Linked DNA regions of Homo sapiens: region 1 is linked to region 2. Evidence: fine-mapped expression QTL. Tissue or cell type: skeletal muscle. Region 2 holds a variant in brackets; the other region holds the start of a gene. All regions are shown on one strand. Distances are between the middles of the regions.

Region 1 (5,333 bases), 39 kb before region 2:
ACCCAAACTTTATTTACAGGGACAGAGAAGAAGACAGATCACCCAGGGGACCAGTCGCAAGGATGGGTGCAAGCCTGGCATCTGCTGCCTCTCTGACTCCAATGCCTGGCTTTGTGGTTTGTCTGTGAGACAAAGGCCTCTTCTTCTGGCTCAGGTCTCTTTGCCAGTTTTCCACCCACCCAATCTGGAATGTTCTGCTGGTCCTGCTTGTCCTTCCAAAGCCCTTGCCCACTCAGCTCCTGTTTACTCACACTTGAATATTTTTAAACCAGAGTGTTATCTGTGACAGCTCTGTCAACCTTATTTGTTCACCCTGTTCTTCCACCCTCTTAGGACAAATGGGCGTCCCTATATTGTTTCCTCGTAGGGCTTGATTGGACCCAGGCCAGCGCCCTGTCGTAGCCCTGAGAAACCCAGAAAATCATAGAAGAGGGAATAGAAAGGCAGAAAATACCCATGGGGATGAACAGCTCAGGATGAGGCAGGGCTCTCTCCTGGCTCTGAAACCTGAGATGGTAAAATCGGTCAAGAGTCCAAGGTGTTGGAAGAGATAAGCAAAGGAGTTTGAAGGCAGCTCTTTCCCTGCAGATTGTCATGAACCAAACCAGAAAGGGGTATCCTGTAGAGAAGTTAGGGGACGGAGGATAAACTTGACAGTGCATGAAAAAATGTAATAAATGGGATACAGAGGACTATCAAATAGAAACAGGTGATGGGGGAGGAAGGCACTAGCAACCTCCTCATTTTTCTTCACATTTGGACACACATGTGCCTAAAATGGTTTAGGCAGGGTAGGAAAGGAAAATGGATGGAGAAGTTTCCAGGAGGTTCCAGTAAGGACTCTCCCGTCCTAGCTGTGGGGAGACTCACCTCTGAGAGTCCAGTGTCAAACCAGCTGGGTGCCCGCAGGAAGGAGGGTGGCCGAAGGTAGAAGGGACTCAGGGAAGTAGACGTCGGGAAAAGATCAGACTCCAACAGGTGCTCTCCGAAGAACTGGTCAAAGAGGCGGCTGGGGGAGTGGAAAGGAAAGAAGGGGCGGCGGATCCAGGGGTGGTGGATGGCGATGTCCATGGTGGCTAGGTGAGTGTGAGGGGTCAGCTGGCTGGTCAGCTCCTTCAGCTGCAGCTACAGCCAGCCCCTTATATATGCAGTCTTGTGAAGCTTCTGGAATGGTGATGTCAGGGGTTTTATTATCCTAGCTCACCAGCAGTTCATGGAGACTTGTGATCCGGGATTTGGCAATGTGACACATACCCAGTACTCACTGAGCTAAGAAAAGAGAGACACAAACACGTCTGAGCCGGCCAGTGACTTGTCATGGTCTTGTTTCACTAGCTTTCTGTCCACACCCAATGGCACCCACCCCCACCCCTGTTCTCTGAAGCTGGTACAGAGTCAGGAATCCCAAGCAGGCACGCGGGGTGGGGGGAGGATGGGAGCCGGCGTAGTGTGCCCCTCCTCCTCCTTTCCAGTCCTGAATGCCAGGGGAATCAGGCCAGCAACTATCTTGGGCCTGGGCAGGGACTGGAATCTTCCTAGGCTGAGCCCCAGGGACATTAACTCTTTGTGAGTCCTTGGAAGAGAGCAGTGATGGTCAACATGTCAGCACCAGCCATCTGCCTCGTGCCCTGGGTTGACCTGGGTTTAGGAGAGGATCCCACATCTGGGCAGAAAGACCCCACCCCCTGAAAAAAGAGCAAACAGATTTCTTGCATCTTTCGTTCTATGTGGCTCTCAGAACATTAAATCCAGGAGTGCTTTAGGAATTGGGTGCACAGTGCCTGCCACCGAAGAGGAGAAAATGAGGTGTGGAAACGTGCAAACCGTTTGTGAGGGTCTCAGCGAGGCCTCTTCATGCCCCAGGCACCACCAGCTCCCCCTCCCCAGCTCGTTCCCAGCCAGGACCCTCAGCTGTCCTCTCAGGCCCCCTGCGACAGCTGAAGAGTGTGCGGGGGAGGGGACTAGGGGTCCGGGCGGCGCTGGTCACACCCTCGTTGCTCTCACTCAGGGCCCCCACTCCCAGCCCCTCCCCCCCCAAGAGGCTCGGCACTATTTTGGGTGGTGTCGACCCCGCCCCCACCTCCTATCGAGCCCTGGCTCTCCGGGCAGCTGGAGGGGTCGCGCTGCGCCTGTTGGGGCTGCACCTCGGACCAGGGCTTCTGCTGCATCTGCAGCCATGTCGGGCCGCTCAGTGCCACATGCCCACCCGGCCACCGCCGAGTACGAATTTGCCAACCCGAGCCGCCTGGGTGAGCAGCGCTTCGGAGAAGGTATGGCACAGACACCACCCCCTTGCCCCCCACCCCCACCCCCTGAAATTCTGGGCTGACCTCCCAACGTTGCTGGCCTCCACCCCACTCTGGGCTTAACTGATCTCCTGGGACCAGCCACCCCCCACCCCAGACTACCCCTCATCCCCTCCAAGCAGAGATCTTTCCCATTCCTGCTGACCTCAAGACACACTTGGTGCTTGCAGTGCTGATACCTGCTCTTTGCCGGCCTGGGTGTGCCTCCTTGTCCCCCTTCTATCCACCCAGGCCGTTTGGTGCCTCCTCCTCCTCCCCCTCCTCCTCCTTCTCCTCCTCCTCCTCCCTTTCCTTTCCGTTCTCTTTCCCCTCTTCCGAGCTGCCTTCTCCTCCTAGCTACAGTGTGGCCTCCCTCCCGTTCCCTACTCCTCCTGACTCCCCTCTTGCTCTTCCCAATCCCTCCTCTCCAGATTTCCCATTTCGCCCCTGTGCCAGCCTCATCCTCCCTCATCCTGCCTCTTGCCTTCTCTCTGCCCTTTAGGCCTCCTGCCAGAAGAGATCCTGACCCCCACACTCTACCATGGCTACTATGTCCGGCCTCGGGCCGCCCCAGCTGGGGAGGGCAGCAGGGCAGGGGCCTCCGAGCTTAGGCTCAGTGAGGGCAAGTTCCAGGCATTTCTGGATGTGAGCCACTTTACCCCAGACGAGGTGACTGTGAGGACTGTGGATAACCTGCTGGAGGTGTCTGCCCGGCACCCCCAGCGCCTGGACCGCCACGGCTTCGTGTCCCGAGAGTTCTGCCGCACCTATGTCCTGCCTGCTGATGTCGACCCCTGGCGAGTCCGAGCTGCTCTCTCCCATGATGGCATCTTAAACCTGGAAGCACCTCGGGGTGGCCGACATTTGGACACAGAGGTCAATGAGGTCTACATCTCCCTGCTCCCTGCGCCTCCTGATCCAGAGGAAGAGGAGGAGGCAGCCATAGTTGAGCCCTGATTGCCACAGACCCAGCACCCAGCAAATCCCTCTCTACCTCCCAAGGTGATATGGGCAGCTGCCCACCACTCCAGAGGTAGCAGCATCCTTGGGGGAAGGGAAAGGTGCATGGTCCACAATGTATGGTTTGGTCCCATGGGACATGTCATAGCCTTGGTTTAGTTTTGGGTGGAGCTGAATAAACCCAAATCTCAGGGCCTTGTTTGTACTGCTCCCTATTCTGTGGCCGGGAAGCTGGGATGGGGAGGGAGGGAGGAGGTCACAGCCAGCTAGACAAAAAGCTCCTCAGTTTGATGTGCCCAACGTCATAGGACCCTGAGCTCGCACTTGGATGCTGAGATCACACCCGGAAGCTGACTCTGGCTCCAGATCAAATTCCTAGCCATAATTTTCTCACAATGCAACAAAAGAGAGAGTGATCCTGGGAGGGAAAAGGGATATGCCATCCAAACAGCCCAGAGGGCACTGTCTGAGCTGGTGATTAGAGACACAAAAACAAGGGTCTCCAGACTGTCTGGCCCTTTTTGGGTAGGGGCTGGGAAAATGGTTTTTGGCTGGTGAGAGTTGCCTAAAGTCCTGGAGTGAATACTTTGTTTTCATGTACTAAGGTCTGTCCACTTAAATGGTCACTGATTTTGAGAGCCTGAGTATGCATACACAGGGCACAGACACAAAGCCTCTCCAATTATCACGGAACCCCATTACCTTCCCATCCTCTGGGGGTACGGTGTATTCAGGAAAGCCTGAGGTCTGTCCCCTCAGTTATTCTCTGCAATCAAGAGAACATCCAGCTACATGATTTGGGGGAAGTGTCCAAAAGACCTTCCTGCCTCCAAATACATATTTCATTAGGCTGTGGTAGATACCTACAATTCTTCCATTAAAGCAGTTGTTTCTTGGCTGGGTGCAGCAGCTCACACCTGTAATCCCAGTACTTTGGGAGGCCGAGGCAGGAGGATCACTTGAGCCCAAGAGTAAGAGACCAGCCTGGGCAATAGAGTGCAACCTTGTCTCTACAAAAAAATAAAAATTAGCCAGGCATGGTGGTGCATGCCTGTAGTCCCAGCTACTTGGGAGGCTGAGGTGGGAGGATGAGCTAGGGAGGTTGAAGCTGCAGTGAGCTGAGATTGCGCCACTGCACTCCAGCCTGGGTGACAGAGTGAGACCCTGCCTCAAAAAAATTAAATTGAATTGAATTAAATTAAGTGGTTGTTTCTTAACTTTTGGGAGTTATAGACCCTTCTGAAAATCTGACAAAAGCTATAGCTGCTCTTACCAGAAAAATACATATGCTCCCAAATTTGGCAATACAATTTGAATAGGTTCCCACAACTCTTAAGACCCATTCACATACCCCCCTTAGGGATCTGTGGACCTCCAGGATAACAGAACTCACTTGAGGAATTCGACTTTTGGTTAAAAGATTGCTGTCTATTAAAAATGAAAGCATGCCCCAGAGAAATAACATTTGACATATTTAACTGTTCATTCATTCATTCAGTAAATATTTATCAAACCTCATGTAATACACCTTGGGGGATATACATTGTAAATATAAATTATAAAAACTATTAGCTTTTATTGTCAACTTTCCAGAATCTAGTTGAGAAGAAAAATAATAAGAAAAGGATTCTACTTAGACTTCAACCAAAATAGCTTCACATTGATATGTTTTGTAACTGAGCTTTATTTAAAGGAAAGGGTTTCCTAGCTATAAGAAATTTGAAAACTTCTGATTTAGTCCAAATCCCCTCTCCATTCAAATGCTTTTAAAGTTATTAATCAACTTATTCGGGGACATTCTGAATAACAGACAACTTAGAACTTCTCACGGTAGTCGTTTCCATGTTCTTTCTTTTCTTTTTTAGACAGGGTCTTGTTCTGTTGCTCAGGATGGAGTGCAGTGGCATGATCATGGCTCACTGCAGCCTCAACCTCCCTTGCTCAAGCAATCCTCCTGCCTCAGCCTCCTGAGTAGCTGGGACTACAGGTGTGTGCCACCACGCCTGGCTAATTTTTTACTTTTTCTGGAGATGAGGTCTCGCCTTGTTGTCCAGGCTGGTCTTGAACTCCTGGACTCAAGCAATCCTC
Region 2 (5,378 bases):
CACCCCGCCCCCAGCTCTTGGGCTCTAGACCTGTGTTTTGCCAACTGGCTGTGGAACATCTATACTCTGGTGTTCTACAAATAGCTCAGACTCTCTCAAAACCGAGCCATTGACTTTTCCCAGTGCTTGTTCTTCATGTCTTCTCCATCCCAGTTAAAGCATCACCAGCCAGCCAGTCATTCGGGTCCAACATTTTGGACCCTCTTTTTGTCGCTCCCTACATCCTATCAGTCATCTCTGGCTTGTTTCTGGAGTTTGTCCTTTGCTCACTGGTGCTGCTTCAGTTTAGGTGCTTATCTTCTCTTGCTTGAATTATTGCCTGGGCTCCTCGTTGGCTTCTTCAATCTGTATGCTGTTCTTTCTATTCCAAGATGCCAGTCACACAGTTTCACTCTCCTGTTTCACAACTTCACACTTCCTGTTGAAGGTCATTAAGCCTTAGTCTAAGTGCTGGTGGTCGTGGGCAGACCTGTTTCTCCAACATTATCACCTGCTCCGCCCACACGCTACCCCCTCAACTGGCTGTTCCTCTAAGATAGTATGTGTCTTCTGACCCTTCCTCCTTCCATCACCTCTGCCCTTGTCCTCTCTGCAATTGGCAGACATCCGTAAAGAACCAGCCAGATGTCTCCTTCCCTGTTGACCTTTTCCTGATTCCTCCAGCCTTCCATCCTGTTGCTCCTTCTCTGCATAAATAGCTTTTTTTTTTAAACGTTTCTCTCTTGTAGCAGCAATCACTTTGTGTCCGTTATTTATGTGCCTGTAAGCACTGACCTTGGCACAATGCCTGGCAGATAGTAGGGACTCAAGAATATGTTGACTTGAATAAATGAATGCATGGAATGACAGGATCTCTTGAGACACAATCTAGCAAGGTGAAATTTATTAAAGGCAAATGTGGATCAAGAAAACCAATTTTACAAGCTCAAAGATGGAAGGGATATGGTTTAACAGCAAAATGTGTTAAAAATTATTTAGGGGTTTTGGTTGACAGTTTAGTATGAGTCACCAATGTGACCCAAAAAAAGAAAAAGAAAAGAATATGAAATATCTTGAATGAAGAAGCTGAGTATCTGGTTTTATACCTAGAGTGTTGTGCTTGGTTCTAGGTATTACAGTTTTAGAGAGACTTAGATTGAATAGCAATATTTCTTATTTTATTTTTTTTTATTTTTGTGGGTACAAAGTAGGTATATATATATATATATATATATATATATTTTTTTTTTTTTTTTTTTTTTTTTTTTTTTTTTGAGACAGAGTTTCACTCTTGTCGCCCAGGCTGGAGTGCAATGGCATGATCTTGGCTCACTGCAACCTCTGCCTCTCAGGTTCAAGCGATTCTCCTGCCTCAGCCTCCCGAGTAGCTGGGATTACAGGCGTGTGCCACCATGCCCAGCTAATTTTTGTATTTTTAGTAGAGACAGGGTTTCACCATGTTGGCCAGACTGGTCTTGAACTCCTGACCTCAGCTTATCCACCTGCCTCAGCCTCCCAAAGTGCTGGGATCATAGGCGTGAGCCACTGTGCCCAACCAGTAGGTGTATATATTTATGGGGTACATGAGGTATTGTGATATAGGCTTATGATGTATAATAATCATATCAGTGTAAATGGGGTATCCATCACCACAAACATTTATCCTTTCTTTGTGTTACAAATAACCTAATTATACTTTTAGTTACTTTAAAATGTACAATATTATTGCTGCCTATAGTCACCCTTCTGTGGAATAGCAGTAATTCTTCAAACCAGTTTGCTTTTAAGGTTTTTTAAAATAAATTACCAAAATAGACAAACTACTAGCTAGCATAAATAAGAAAAAAAAGGGAGAAATACAAATACACAAAATAAGAAATGACAATAGAAAAATAGCCACTGAAACAGAAAAAGTAATTACAACAGACTTTGCAGTCCTCTGTGCAAATACATTCAAAAACTTTGATGAAATGGATAATTTCTTAGGTAAATACTGATTACCAAAATTGATAGAAAATGGAAGTTTAAACAAACCAATTTCTATAGAAGAATTAGAGAACCCTATTAAGGAATTATTCCTCAAAAAAGTACAGGCCCAGATTATCTCATGGGTAATTCTACTAAACCTTCAAATATCAGATGGACACAATGTTGTGTAAATTATTTCAGAGCATTGACAATGAAGGAAAACCCATAAATATGTACACCTACTGTATACCTATAAAAATCAAAAATTAAAAAAAGAAAATGAAGACTTTCCTAAAAGTTTTTATGAAATGTAATATTTATATCTAAACATTATAGAGATGGTGCAAAAAAAAACTACAGACTAATATTATTTATGAATATCCATGAGATTTGGGAGTGGCCAGGGGCCCCAAAATCATATAGTTTGGCTATGTCCCCACCCAAATCTCTTCTTGAATTCCCACGTGTTGTGGGACCCAATGGGAGGTAATTGAATCATGGGGGCAGGTCTTTCCTATGCTGTTCTCATGATAGTGAATAAACCTCACGATATCTGATGGCTTATGAGGCAGAGTTTCCCTGCACAAACTCTGTCTCTCTTTTTGTCTGCTGCCATCCATGTAAAATGTGACTTGCTCCTCCTTGCCTTCTGCCATGATTGTGAGGCTTCCTTAGTGATGTGGAACTATAAGTCCATTAAAA[C/CT]TTTTTTTTTTTTTTGTGATGGAGTCTCACTCTGTCACCCAGGTTGGAGTATAGTAGCATGATCTTGGCTTGCTGCGATTTCCACCTCCTAGGTTCAAGCGGTTCTCCTACCTCAGCCTCCTGAGAAGATGGGATTACAAGTGTGTGCCACCACACCTGGCTAATTTTTGTATTTTTAGTACAGATGGGGTTTCACCATGTTGGGCAGGCTGGTCTTGAACTCCTGACCTCAAGTGATCTGCCCGCCTCAGCCTCCCAAAGTGCTGGGATTATAGGCATGAGCCACCATGCCCGTCTTAAAATCTCTTTTTCTTCCCAGTCTCGGGTATGTCTTTATCAGCAGCGTGAACACAGACTAATACAATGTTCTTGAGTAGGATGATTCAACATCATAAATATGTCAATTTTCTCTAAATTAATTTATAAGTTTAATACAATCCCAGTAAAAATTCCAAGAAGCTTTTTTAGGAAGTTAGACAAATTGACACTAAAGTTCATATGGTGAAATAAATACACAAGAACAGTCAAGAAAACACTAAGGCAATGGTTTACAGGCAGTAGTTTACCTGTAATCCCAGACTTTGGGAGGCCAAGGTGGGAGGAAGGTGAGGCCAGAAGTTCTAGCCTGAGCAACAAAGTGAGACCCTGTCTCTACAAAAAAATCCAAAAATTGGCCAGGCCTGGTGGCTCACACCTGTAATCCCAGCACTTTGGGAGACCAAGTCAGGCAGATCATGAGGTGAGGAGTTCGAGACCAGCCTGACCAACATGGTGAAACCCCATTTGTACTAAAAATACAAAGTTAGCCGGCTGTGGTGGTGCGTGCCTGTAATCCCAGCTACTTAGGAGGCCGAGGCAGGAGAATTGCTTGAACCCAGGAGGCGGTGGTTGCAATGAGCCGAGATCACACCACTACACTCCAGCCTGGGTGACAGCGTGAGACTTTGTCTCAAAAAAAAAAAAAAAAATCCAAAAATTAGCTGTGGTGGCGTGTGACTATGGCCTTAGCTACTCTGGAGGATGGGACTAGAGGATGGATTGAACTTGGGAGGTTGAGGCTGCAGTGAGCTGTGATCATGCCACTGAACTCCAGCCTGGGCAACAGAGCAAGACCCTGTCTCCAAAAACCAAACAAAGAAAAAACAAATGGGGCAGATTTCTATAAACCACTTTGGAGTGATTTTCAGAATTAAATCAAGTGAATCAAATGAAGTGAAGTTAGAAAGAAAAGTACAAATTAGTATCAATACTATCAGGTTTTTCACAAAAGAAAGAAAGAGAAATAAAGGAACATACATGTATCTGTTATTTTCCATATAAACTGGAAACTAATGAGCTTGGTTATGTGGGATAGGGTGCGGAGAGGTACATGGGAATGCGGTGGAAAGAATGATGTGGGAGTGACACTTTTTATGTTTTTGAATAGCTCTTTCAGGACCTTATTAATTTTTCATCTATCCAAAAAATAAATAATTAAAATCAACCAGGCCGGGCACAGTGGCTCACTCCTGTAATCCCAGCACTTTGGGAGGCCGAGGTGGGCGGATCACCTGAGGTCAGGAGTTTGAGACCAGCCTGGCCAACATGGTGAAACCCCGTCTCTACTAAAAATATAAAAAATTAGCCAGGCATGGTGGCACGTGCCTGTAATCCCAGCTACTCAGGAGGCTGAGGCAGGAGAATTGCTTGAACCCGGGAGGTGGAGGTTGTAGTGAGCCAAGATCACACCATTGCACTCCAGCTTGGAGACAGAGCGATACTCCATATCAATCAATCAATAAATAAAATCAACCAGAATTTGGGGCTAACCAAAAATGAACTACAAAGAGTAACAGATGAACCTAACTGTATTATAAATGAATAATATAACCACAGTGGAAGGAGTGGAAAAGGAAAGAACTAACCCAAGTAACTTTGGAAGCAGTATTTTGGCTGTGTACTGTAAGGCTAAAGACAAAAAGTATTGTACAGTAAGCTGTCTCTATCCATGCGTTCTGTATCCATGGCTTCAGCATCTGTGGATTCAACAAACTGCAGATCAGAAATATTTGACAAAAGAAACGCGTCTGTACTGAGTAGCTACAGACTTTTTTTTTTTGTCATTATTCCCTAAACCAGAGGTCCCCAACCTTTCTGGCACCAGGGACCGGTTTCATGGAAGACAGTTTTTCCATGGACCAGGTGGGGGATGGTTTTGAGGTGATTCACACACATTACATTTATTGTGCACTTTATTTTTGTATTATTACATTGTAATATATAATGAAATAATTATACAACTTACCATAATGTAGAATCAGTGGGAGCCCTGAGCTTGTTTTCCTGCAACCAGATGGTCCTATCTCGGGGTAATGGGAGACAGTGACAGATCATCAGTCATTAGATTCTCATAAGGAGGGTGCAACCTAGATTCCTCACATGCACAGTTCACAATAGGGTTCCCATTCCCATGAGAATCTAATCCCACCGCTGATCTGAAGTGAGGCGGAGGTCAGGTGGTAATGTGAGCAATGGGGAGCAGCTGTAAATACAGATGAAGCTTCACTCTGTGGCCCGGTTGCTAACAGGCCATGGACCAGATGCCTGTCCTAAACTATTACAGCTTAATAACTATTTACATAACATTACATTGTATTAGCTATTACAAGTAATCTAGAGATGATTTAAAAGGGTGCTTAGGTTATATGCAAATACTATGCCATTTTATATCAGACAGTTGAGCATATATG

Alleles and levels. Alleles are on the strand shown, and positions count from the first base shown. SD is a standard deviation of normalised expression in the study named.
For the expression in skeletal muscle of the gene that starts at base 2,081 in region 1, C is the high allele of the variant in region 2 and CT is the other (large effect, 1.1 SD a copy in FUSION).

Evidence for each region. PIP is the estimated chance that this variant, and not a neighbour inherited with it, causes the effect.
Region 1: it holds the start of HSPB2, and the variant in region 2 is the best candidate, but not a certain one, in a credible set for the expression of HSPB2 in skeletal muscle (FUSION, PIP 0.63).

The regions. Positions count from the first base shown.
Region 1 is chr11:111,910,654-111,915,986 of GRCh38, forward strand. It overlaps HSPB2 (heat shock protein family B (small) member 2), which reads left to right and starts at 2,081. Exons shown (of 2, transcript NM_001541.4): 1 at 2,081-2,270; 2 at 2,788-3,440. The coding sequence starts at 2,177. The coding sequence ends at 3,242. CRYAB (crystallin alpha B) reads right to left here and starts at 1,117. Exons shown (of 3, transcript NM_001289808.2): 1 at 871-1,117. The coding sequence starts at 1,071. It overlaps HSPB2-C11orf52 (HSPB2-C11orf52 readthrough (NMD candidate)), which reads left to right and starts at 2,083. Exons shown (of 5, transcript NR_037651.1): 1 at 2,083-2,270. RefSeq lists an enhancer at 2,832-3,485.
Region 2 is chr11:111,949,220-111,954,597 of GRCh38, forward strand. The region is part of intron 1 of DIXDC1 (DIX domain containing 1); the gene reads left to right. Among named protein-coding and RNA genes, the nearest start is that of DIXDC1, 15 kb to the left of the region's middle. The variant C/CT (reference allele first, on the strand shown) is at 2,650.